Linked DNA regions of Homo sapiens. The protein of the gene in region 1 purifies or fractionates together with the protein of each later gene. This does not show direct contact. Each region holds a gene or a part of one and is shown on either strand. Other genes may lie near its edges. The genes, in order: RSF1, CENPA and EIF3C.

The links.
Region 2: the proteins of RSF1 (region 1) and CENPA purify together in Homo sapiens (affinity purification with western blotting; 2 studies listed by BioGRID, with this or other methods). This does not show direct contact.
Region 3: the proteins of RSF1 (region 1) and EIF3C fractionate together in Homo sapiens (co-fractionation; one large-scale study listed by BioGRID). This does not show direct contact.

The regions. Positions count from the first base shown.
Region 1 is NC_000011.10:77,659,431-77,663,797, reverse strand, and holds the end of RSF1 (remodeling and spacing factor 1), read left to right. Parts: 3' UTR 1-3,789; downstream 3,790-4,367. UniProt on the Homo sapiens protein: Regulatory subunit of the ATP-dependent RSF-1 and RSF-5 ISWI chromatin-remodeling complexes, which form ordered nucleosome arrays on chromatin and facilitate access to DNA during DNA-templated processes such as DNA replication, transcription, and repair.
Region 2 is NC_000002.12:26,788,938-26,792,107, forward strand, and holds part of CENPA (histone H3-like centromeric protein A), read left to right. Parts: intron 1-3,170. UniProt on the Homo sapiens protein: Histone H3-like nucleosomal protein that is specifically found in centromeric nucleosomes. Replaces conventional H3 in the nucleosome core of centromeric chromatin that serves as an assembly site for the inner kinetochore.
Region 3 is NC_000016.10:28,721,461-28,725,113, forward strand, and holds part of EIF3C (eukaryotic translation initiation factor 3 subunit C), read left to right. Parts: intron 1-1,703; coding exon 1,704-1,863; intron 1,864-1,987; coding exon 1,988-2,091; intron 2,092-2,791; exon of another isoform or gene 2,792-2,861; coding exon 2,862-3,003; intron 3,004-3,197; coding exon 3,198-3,323; intron 3,324-3,458; coding exon 3,459-3,552; intron 3,553-3,653. UniProt on the Homo sapiens protein: Component of the eukaryotic translation initiation factor 3 (eIF-3) complex, which is required for several steps in the initiation of protein synthesis.

The DNA.
Region 1 (4,367 bases):
GTCAGCTTTTCACACAGCAGAAGCTTTGAACTGAAATATGTGTGAAAAGGACGCAGACTGAAAACGTTTTGGTTTTGTACATCAGTGCTGATGAAATTAGTGTAAAACATTTTCCATCATTGGCACATTACTGCAAAATGATGGCAGAGATATTTTCAAGAATGTACATCAAGTTATATTTCCTTGACATCCTTTTTTCAATTGGTCAAGGTTACAGATTCAGAGGATAAAGGGTAGTTTCATTTAGAATAAATTCATGTCTACTGGCAATCTATATATAAAAGTGACCTGCCCAAGAACCAAAAACTTTAAATGCTAATGAAGCTTTTGAAAAATAATTTTTAAACAAATTAATTTTAAAAGGGTGTTACACGTACCCAGTTTTTACTTTTTAGTTGATGAAACCCATCCTATAATATACATTTGAGCAAAGTACACATATTAAGAAAAACATGGACATTTACTTGTTTAATAGTCAAAATGATGAGGAAATGTTAGCTGTTTTTAAGTGGGACTGGTGGGGTGTCCTTTGTCACAAGGAATGCTTTTTTAGCTTGTTTGTGGGCATAAGAGATGTTAACCCTTTGCTGATTCTACCACACAACTGTAAAGAACCTAATGAATCTACAAGTTTAATATTCAGAAAAAGCTAGGAACTCCGCTCTTTACCAGTACAGTGGAACAGGCCCGTTATTCAAGGTGATGCCTCACAGCTATAGAACAACTATTCAAAGACCCAGAGTTAAATGGTACATGTGTATATGTGTGTGTGTGTGTGCACACGCACACACTTCAGATAAGTATCAGAAAAAATAAAAATGAATCCATCATTAACTTGAAAGAAATAAGATGGCTGCATTGCAACAGATACAAATATTATGAACATCATTTAATTACAGAAAATCTAGACAACAGTTTCTCCTGATGTTTGACATTCTCAAAATATATTCCTCATTCTCGAAGAAGCAGAGAATGCCAAGGCTGCATATCTGCTGTAATCTACCTAGCCCTCTTCTGCTTAATATGATCCATTATTGAATCTTCTCAGATTAAAATCCATTCCTATATCATCTACCTTTCCCAAAGTGTGTGCCTGTAAACCTACCTTGGAAGTGGCAAGTTAACTGATTTTTTTGTGTCATTTTTATACCAATCCTTAAGGTCAAAGCCTTTTGCTATCAATGTATTTAAACTGAGTTGCTATATGTTCACTAATTTGTTTTCAAAATGTTTTGCTCCAACTTAAATTATCTTTTAACATCTTTTGAGTGCCAAGAATTGCTAAGTAACTGTAATATGTTGAAGAGAGTAATTGCCAAGCAAGCAGTCATAAGCCAAAATGTAATGAGCTTAGTATATAACCACTTTAGAGTATACACTCACCACTTTTTGTATTCATTCATGCAAACCCTCCTGGAAGTCGATTAGAAGAGGATCCAATTTGTGGACCTTTTTTCCTCCTTTTGGACACCTGAGCACAATTTTTTTTTTCCTTTCATATTTATACCACTTTGGAAAATTCAGTAAACCCAATTCTGGCACATCATAATGGTTTCAGTTAGTGAAGATGTTTATTTTAATAACTTTAAAATATGACTATCCTATACATAAGTTATATAAGAGGGCATAACAATAGATGAGTAGAAATTTATAAAATTTCTTGGATATTTTGAATGAGAAAAAAACATTTTTAAAGGAATTTTGTTTTTTCCTTTTTTGGCCAAACCGGTACAAGTTAGAAAGTGTGCTAAGGACTGAATACTTGCCTCGTGCTTTTTGCCACTGGATGATGTAAGTTAAGAATGGAATTGTTAATCCTAAGTATATATTTTCTTGACTTTCATCAGTTTCTAAAGAAATCTAATTTAAGTGTTTTGCGGTTTTGTTTGATCTGTATTTATTGAGTTCTGGTCATAGACCAGCAGCTTGCACGTCATGCTCATGAACAGCCAGAACATAGTTATTGGGGAACTTCATGGCTCAAAACCTTCTGAATCATTTAACTTATTTTGTATGTTGCAAAAAAAAAAAAAAAGTTTATTTTGCTTGAGAGTCACCTTTTTTTAAAAAAAATAACTGTACAGCTTTTAAGGGATGGGAGGTGGGAAAATACCCTAAAATAGGATGTAGATTTTTTACAATTGTGTTTATGCTAGATCATCTACAGGTGCATTATGTAATTAAACCTAAAATTGTTTAAAAATTTGTGCCATGTCTTTTTCATTCTCCTGCCCTTTAGCAGAATTGGTGCATGTCAACTGCTATGTGGACAAGCCTTGAAATTAGAGTAACAAGCCCTGTCTCCAAAGCTTTAAGGTCACTGCATGAAAATTGCACACACACACACACACACACACACATCTAGCTTATATTAGTAAATGGATTTTCAGGATCAGAACAGCTACAGTAGCCCAGATTTGGCTGTTAACAGCATATTCTTACAGCACATGATTTTTGTGATGCCTAACTAGGGTATTCTCAATGTTAGTCTGGTGTTCTATTCTCTTTCAAAGTAGCTTCTTGAGATGGTATCTGTTGTAGCTTGCCCAAACCTGCCATGAGGTTGTGTGTACACTTTGAAAGGGTATGTCCTATGCTAAGATGGTGGTAGAGCAGGGCTTGATTTTAATCTATTCATATAAAAGAAGGAAAAAACTAGAATTGGTCTATTTGGTTATTCAGTGGACTTAATTCCACAGGAATAGTTGTCTGCTGAAGCGTGGCAGCAAGAGAAGTCAAATTCAAGTTTCAGTTCCTTCCTTATTCACTAAGTATTTTGAAATCTTGTAGAACTTCTGATTCTAGCACAGTCTTTTACATGGCACATTTTACCATGGTATATTCACAGCTTCGTTTAAATGTCAGTACTTTTTCCCATCTGATAATTTTGCCATTCTAATTTCTCACCTTTGTAGTACAAGTGTATTCTTGAAAATAATTAAATTCATCTAAGTGTGTCATAATTTCAATCAAAGCTATATTCATGTGTTGCCAGCGTCAGTTTTTTGCTATCCTCATTCAGAAGGGAAGCCTGCAGATCATGAGTTTCCATATGAAGAATACAAATTCCACATAAAAATTTATAAATGGTATCTTTAGAATTTTGATTTAAAGTAATAGCTGGAATTCAGGGACTGATCAGAATGCCTCTTGAATTTTCCAACATGCTTATATGAAATGCTTTATTTTCCTATGCGTTAAAAAAAATATTCCTGGAATAGGTTCTCAGAATGTTTTATTTGGTTTCTAGGAGATGAGATTTAAAGCAGAAGCTCCAAGATTGGCATAAAACTAACTCTTGAGGTAATCAGGACCATGCTGTTAGTCAAATAGAAGCTGGAGTGCTCTCTGTCACATAATGTACTGCATGTGTGTGGGGGTGGGGGGGCAGGGAAGATCAGAAAACTGGAAATGTAATTCTGATAACACGCAAAGTAAATTGTGCATTAAAAGTATGGGAATTCTTGGTAGCTTAAAGCTTCAGGGGTTAACTTCAGTGTATGAACACCTAGTGTGTTAGAATTGCAGTGCATAGTTGTTTAAATACAATATTCCTTGTAAGTGACAACCAAAATATGTTGTGGCTGGTGCCAGTATTTTTGTTAATGAAATGTTCAGTGTCTCACTACAGTCTGATCAGAACTCTTGGTGTTATAAGCCAGGCCTAAAGCCATTTTATAGCTATTGGCCTAATTGTGTAACTTTTTCTTTCAAAATGTTTTATTATAATACTTCTGTCATTTCTTTCACTTAATATGTCAATTGTCATAATAAAAATTTAAATTTGAATTATTTAGCATGATGTGTTTGCAAACTTAGCTTATTTTAAATTTTGTGGCACATGGAACAAATTGTCTGTAACAGTTCATGACGGTTAAAATTTATCACCCAGGCCTAGATGAATTGTTCTCCCGCTATCTAGAAAGTAAATTTGCAAGTGCATCAGTTTCCCTAAAATAATTTTTAAGGCTATTTGCCAACTAGACAAATATAGATATTAGAAAACTATTATTGATTTCTATATTTAGCCTCTGGAGAACTAACACATTATAGAGGCTGTGGACTTGTTCTGTGTGGTCCCATAAGAGCACAGAACTAGACCAGAGGACAGAAGCCATAGGGCAAAAGTTTTCCATTCATTCTATGGAGGAAGCTTAGTTCTCTAATAATAAACAAGCTTGGAAGTGAATTATTAGGAATAGGGGATGTTTGGGAGACCAAACATCCACACATTGATCCACGCCTTAAAAAATGGATTAAACCAAATGACTAACCGGTCCTTCCAACCCTGAGTAGGCTTCTCAGCTACAAATGATTTGACAGTTTTTATTTACTCTTGAAATACAGTAAAATTCACACTGAACTTG
Region 2 (3,170 bases), on another chromosome or scaffold:
GTGCTGGGATTACAGGCCTGAGCCGCTGCGCCTGGCCGTATTTACGATCTTAAGAGAAAGGGCAGGAGTGTTTCCTTGACCCCACATTCTCACTTCCCTATACCTCCCATTTCCCTCTACTTCCCTTCATAGCTGTCCTTTTAAAATAGCCAGACTTGTTAGGTCCACATACATTGCATCTGATTCCTCCCTTCCTAGTGACCCTACAACCCACTCCAATCTGACTCCCCACAACCACTACCCCCACTTCTAATCTGCTTGAACTACTCCTGTCAGGGTCACTAGCACCTTTTGTAGTGCCAAATCCAGTAGGTGGGTCTGTGTTCTTACTGTGTCTCAGAAGCATTTGACGCAGTGGGCCTCTTTCTCCTTGAAGCGTTCTGTTCCCTTGGCTTCCATGCCACTGTGCACTCTGGCAGTTCTGCTTGGTGTTCTCTACTGCCTGTGCTGCCTCCCTCGGCTCCTTGATGTTGGACTTCCTTGACATCCTTTTCCTTTCTACCCCCTCCCTAGGTGGTCTCATCTCCTCCGTGGCTCTAAATCCCACTCATACATTGACAGCTCTCAAATATCTGTATACCTGGATCTCTCCTCTGACCCCAGATACCTATATCTAACTGCCTTTCTACCTGAAGGCTCTTGGTTATGTTAAACTTAACACACCCAAAACTGAACTTCTGGTTACTCCCCTCCAGCCCCTTCATCCTCAGCTTCCCCATTTCAGTAAATGGCACAACTACCCACCCAGTTGTTCAAACCACAAGCCTGGGAGACCCCCGTCTCCAATACAAATGCAGGTCCAGATAATTCTACTTCCAAACTGCATCCTTAATCACTCCATTTTCACCATCTCTGCTCCCACTAGCCTAGTCCAAGCTACCAGCAGCTCTCGAGCAACTGTGAGAGCCTCCTAATCAGCTGCCACTCCACTTCCACTCTGTCCCTTTCTACTTCTTTCCTTACACAGCAGCTGGAATGACCTTCCACATCTCTATCCTGCATAAAACTCTTCCCTGGCTTCTTATTACAGTAGGATTAAATTCCATCTCCTCATGTTGGCATTTCAAGACCCAGCTACTAAATTTTTGATCCCAGTTCTTTTCCATGATCTCTCTAATTGGTTACTTTTCATAACCACTTGTTCTTGGGTCATGGATTTCATATCTCTGTTACCTCTCTGAGTTCATTAACCATTTTTCTCTCAAAGTTTCTATTTCTTTTCTCTATTAACTCAATTTCCTCTGGTATTGGCTATTTTGTTTGTTGAGTTTGGTTCCTTTCTTTCATGGTATTGGCCTTCTTAAATTGTTGGGTGATCTTTAGTTGTGTTCATCTTCAAATTTTCTGTGAATGCTATGTCTTGTTTATTTTTTTATTTTATTTTATTTATTTATATATTTTTGTTTGAGACACAGTCTCATTCTTGTTGCCCAGGCTAGAGTACAGTGGTGCGAGCTTGGCTCACTGCAACCTCCATCTCCTGGGTTCAAGCAATTCTCCTGCCTCAGCCTCCCAAGTAGCTGGGATTACAGGTGCCTGCCACCATGCCCGGCTAATTTTTGTATTTTTAGTAGAGATGGGTTTCTCCATGTTCATCAGGCTGGTCTCGAACTCCTGACCTCAGGTGATTGACCCACCTTGGCCTCCCAAAGTGCTGGGATTACAGGCGTGAGCCACCGCACCCAGCCCTATGTCTGTTTATTAAAGACTGCCTCCAGTGACTGGATTGCCAACTGGTGGTGGGGAGGGAGGGAGGTGTCAGTAGTTTTTCTCCTGGGCATGGGTCTTCCCAGTTTTAAATGTTATCAGTCTTCTGGACACTGCCCTGTTTCATTGGCCTGTGTTCTCTAGCCTCACCCAGGGATGGTCTCCTCTGCTGGCTGCCTGGCACAGGCCATCTCTGGATTGTCTCACCTACCCTACTTGCTCTTGCAGCTCTTCTAACACTTCGTGATTAGTTTATTGTATTAAATGCCTTCTATCGAACTTGGTGTAGAGTCTCTTTGCTTGGCTGGATCCTGAATAACATTTCTGAAACAATTTTATCCGTCAACATGTTATTTTTGTATTTTGTTTGTTCAACTTATCAGATGTTCACTCATCTTGATCCTTGGTTGTAATTATGGAGCAACTGTGCTGTTTTTTCTTTAACTTTATTTTCACTAACTTATTTTCTAATATTTCTTTTGTTCTATCTTGTTTTGGTTTACTTTAATAACTCTGTAATACTTAATTTGACTGCTTGGCTCAGATACCTTTTAGTGTTCTTGTTTTCTAATAGGAACACTTTAAGGCTATGCATTTTCCTCTAGTACTATTTTGGCTGTATCTCATAAGTTTTGGGATATGGGCTTTTTATTGTTATTCATTTCCAAATAGTCTAATTTCAATTAAGTTTCCTCTTCAACACAGGTTAGTTAGAAGAAACTGGTTTTTGATTCATGAGTTTTTAATTTCCAATTAGAGAATTTGGCTTTTTTGATTCCTACTTTTGGGAATGTTTTTAAAATTATTTTCTTTTTTGTTCTTGTTGGAACCAGGATTTGAGCCAAAGGCTCTGTCTCCACAGCCCAGGTGCCTGACACTGACACTGAGTTAGGCCACACCTTACACAGGTCTCAGCTTGGCCACTAATGAGGGCTGGCCAACCATCTTCACCTCGCTGGGCCTCAGGATGATCAAGACAAGGGAATTGTACTAGTCTCTCAGATTCTTTCCAGCTGTAAAAAACAAACCAACAAAAAATCTAAAACCAAAATAACTGAGCTTCCAATCTAGGTGGGAAAGATCTAAGACTTGTACAAAGTCCTGCAAAGCCCAGAGGAGGGCGGTCACCCATCTGTTTGGAAGGATCAGGATTCGGGAAAGACTTCATGGAAGAGTTAGCATTTAAAATCAACTGCAGAGGATCATTCACTCATTCATTTAACAAATGTTTATTTAGCACCTATCTGCTATTTTCTAATTGCTGAAGATAGCAGCAAAATTACTATATATCAGGTTGGTGCAAAAGTATTGTGGTTTTTGCCATAACTGCAATGACTTTTGCAGCAACCTAATAAAACAGACAAAAATCCCTGCTCTGTGGAGGGTAGGCACATAGATATAGTCTAGCAATTTGACAGCTTACCTGACTCAGCCAAGCTGCGAGGCACCACCTATTTTCCACT
Region 3 (3,653 bases), on another chromosome or scaffold:
ATGTATTAAGTAGAGGTAATACTCGTTTAGAAATGTTGCTTTTATCTGTTGATTATATAGCTGAGGATATAAACATTTGTTATCTGATAATTTCTAACAAGATATGAATATACCAGAGTATAATCTGTCATAGGAGAGGTCAAGCCAAGTCTTAGGTCTTTCAGTTAGAATTTCATACAATAGTACATTTCCCTTTTGAGGTGTGTATCATACTATCTTTAGTGCTAGAAGTAATACTTTAGCCAAGGAAGTTTAAGTTCTTTTGAAGCATTCATTTTAAAAAATAGCTTTAGTTCTTCTGATCTCAGAGCTATACAGATGGTTTGGACCAAGAGGTTTTAGTTTAATGAACATGCTTTGCATATTTGCAAAGGATTTTACCTATAAAGTGAGTCATCATTAGAGTCTTGCAGTGGTACAGGGGAAAGATCCATAAGCTTTTGTTGTTGTTGTTGTTGTTGTTGTTGTTGTTTTTAATAGAGACGGGCTTTTTACCTTGTCACCCAGACTGGTCTCAAACTCCTGGGCTCAAGCAATACGCCCACCTCGGCCTCCCAAAGTGCTGGGATTACAGGCTTGAGCCACCGTGCTTGGCCAGTCCATACACTTTTGTTGAGAGTTATGGCATTGGTCTTCTGGCAAGGGAAGACTTAATTTAACTGGTAAACTTATAGACTATTCCAAAAACATATTCAAACCTTTTAAGCAGTGAAAATGAAATTTATTTATAAATGTTCAAATGGTAGATTATGGTTATTACATATGAGTTTTCAAAAATGTTGAGTCTTTCTGGAAAGATTTATTCTTCAGTATCTGTGCAAAGTTTGAAGTAATTTGTCTTTGCCATTTGGTTTGTATTTTGTTACATAAATACATACTCAAGTCTGGAGATGGTTTCAGGCAACATCCAGTAGCCTAAGACCATTTTAAGGTAGCTGGTGATCTTTTTCTGTTTTGTGGGGACCTTTTTTGTAATGAACATTTTTTTTAAATTCAGAATTTAGATTAATCGGTTGTCAAGAGAGGAGAGAAAGCGATAAAACAGTTTAGGAATAGTAAAAAAGAAAAAAATGTTTTTATATATTTGGGGGAACTGATTCATTGATTAGTTGGTCAGTCTGGAGAAAGCAGCTGGTATCAAAGAAAATAAGTTGTTTGTGGATTCTTTGGAAAACTGTAGATGTTAGCTTTGGAGCAAAATGACAGGTTGGTTTTTTTTTGTTTTGTTTTGTTTTGTTTTTTTGGAGACTGAGTCTTGCTCTGTCACCCCGGCTTAAGTGCAGTGGCATGATTGTGGCTCACTGCAGCCTTCTCTGCCTCCCAAGTTCAAGTGATTCTCGTGCCTCAGCCTCCTAAGTAGCTGGGACTACAGGCGTGCACCACCATGCCTGGCTAATTTTTGTACTTTTAGTAGAGATGGGGTTCCACCATGTTGCCCAGGCTGGTCTTGGATTCCTGACGTCAAGTGATCTACCATGCTTAGCTGACAGGTTGTTTCTATTAATATGTCTACAGTGGCCTGGTTAGTACTCTGTCTTGTTAGAGATGGCTATGGTTATGGTTCACTGTGCCCTCTAGGTCATTGTTGTAGAGCATAACTTGGACCCAGGAGCTGCTGGAGGAAAAGAGGAAGTTGATGGGAGGAAGAAGCCTTAGAGGTGGGGAGGGGCTGATCTGTCATCTTCTCCCATGTCTGTCGGCAGGGCACCCACCACAGATGAGGACAAGAAGGCAGCCGAGAAGAAACGGGAGGACAAAGCTAAGAAGAAGCACGACAGGAAATCCAAGCGCCTGGATGAGGAGGAGGAGGACAATGAAGGCGGGGAGTGGGAAAGGGTCCGGGGCGGAGTGCCGTTGGTTAAGGTGAGGGTTTCAGAGGTAAAATGAATTGGGGAACAGTTTGGGAGGACATAAAGGTCCCCTTGTGGGGAAAAGGCAAGGACAGTTTCCCGCTGGCATGTACATGACGGGATATGTGCTGATACAGGAGAAGCCAAAAATGTTTGCCAAGGGAACTGAGATCACCCATGCTGTTGTTATCAAGAAACTGAATGAGATCCTACAGGCACGAGGCAAGAAGGGAACTGATCGGTAAGATTCGTGGGCCTGGGCAGTGGGATTGCAGGGTGGCAGAGGGTGGAGGTTGGGGGAAGGGATTGTTGGGAGGGTCTGTGTGTGGCTGTAGTAGAGGGAATTGTATGCTTGGGGCATCCCCGTCCATTATCTGCTGTTTACTCTTCTTGTGACTTAAAACCAATCACTTAACGTTTTGGATCTGTTTTCCCATCTATACAATGAGATAATGTTCTCCTCTTTTTTTTTTTTTTTTTTTTTTTGTTTGAGATGGAGTCTCGTTGTTGCCCAGGCTGGAGTGCACTGGCGCGATCTCGGCTCACTGCAACCTTTTTGCCTTCTGGGTTCAACCGATTCTCCTGCCTCAGCCTCCTGAGTAGCTGGGATTACAGGAACCCGCCACCATCCCTGGCTGATTTTGTACTTTTAGTAGAGATGGGGTTTCACCATGTCTCGAACTCCTGACTTCAAGTGATCCGCCTGCCTCAGCCTCCCAAAGTGCTGGGATTACAGGCATGAGCTACCACACCTGGCTTTTTTTTTTTTTAAGATTAAAAAAGTAAAAGAGTGTTTACCTTCTTTAGTTATTAGGTAACAGAGGATGGTGGTAGGTGTGAAGCATTTCACAGCATTCCAGGATGGTTGGGATTATTGTTGCTTCTGTTTGGAATTTATAAAGGAGAAGCAGGGATATGGGTGATGAGGAGGGCGCGTTATCCGAAGCGGGCATGCTGGGAGAGACTTTGTGATTTGTCTCCAAAGCCTCACCCAGCTCTCTGGCCCTCTAGTGCTGCCCAGATTGAGCTGCTGCAACTGCTGGTTCAGATTGCAGCGGAAAACAACCTGGGAGAGGGCGTCATTGTCAAGATCAAGTTCAATATCATCGCCTCTCTCTATGACTACAACCCCAACCTGGCAACCTACATGAAGGTGAGAGCAGTGAAGAGGCTCATCTCAGGGCATCGCTGGTGGGTTGGGGGAAGAAGGTACCTAGCATCTTAAGACTCAGGGGCTATGGAGGCAGTCTTGGTGGTGGAAGGCCCCATGATTCCTGCTGAAGGGGGAGGCATCCGCTTACTCTACCTTCACACCTCTGACTCTGATGTGGCCTGAAATCTTGGCAGCCAGAGATGTGGGGGAAGTGCCTGGACTGCATCAATGAGCTGATGGATATCCTGTTTGCAAATCCCAACATTTTTGTTGGAGAGAATATTCTGGAAGAGAGTGAGAACCTGCACAACGCTGACCAGGTAAAGGGAGGAGTTGGCAGGATAACTGGAGGTGTGTATTTTATGCTTTGGGAAGGCTCAGTGGGACCCGAGGGTTGAGGTTTGAGACTGAGATCTGGGCTAATTTGTTGACTCCTCCTTCGCCTTCCTTTTCAGCCACTGCGTGTCCGTGGCTGCATCCTAACTCTGGTGGAACGAATGGATGAAGAATTTACCAAAATAATGCAAAATACTGACCCTCACTCCCAAGGTGAGCCTGAGCAAGCGTGGGCTTTGCTGAGAGGAAAATTGTGGGGAATATTACTAGGTTTAGAGCTTTGTGAGGATTATACTAAGTCAGAGTGCTTGAAA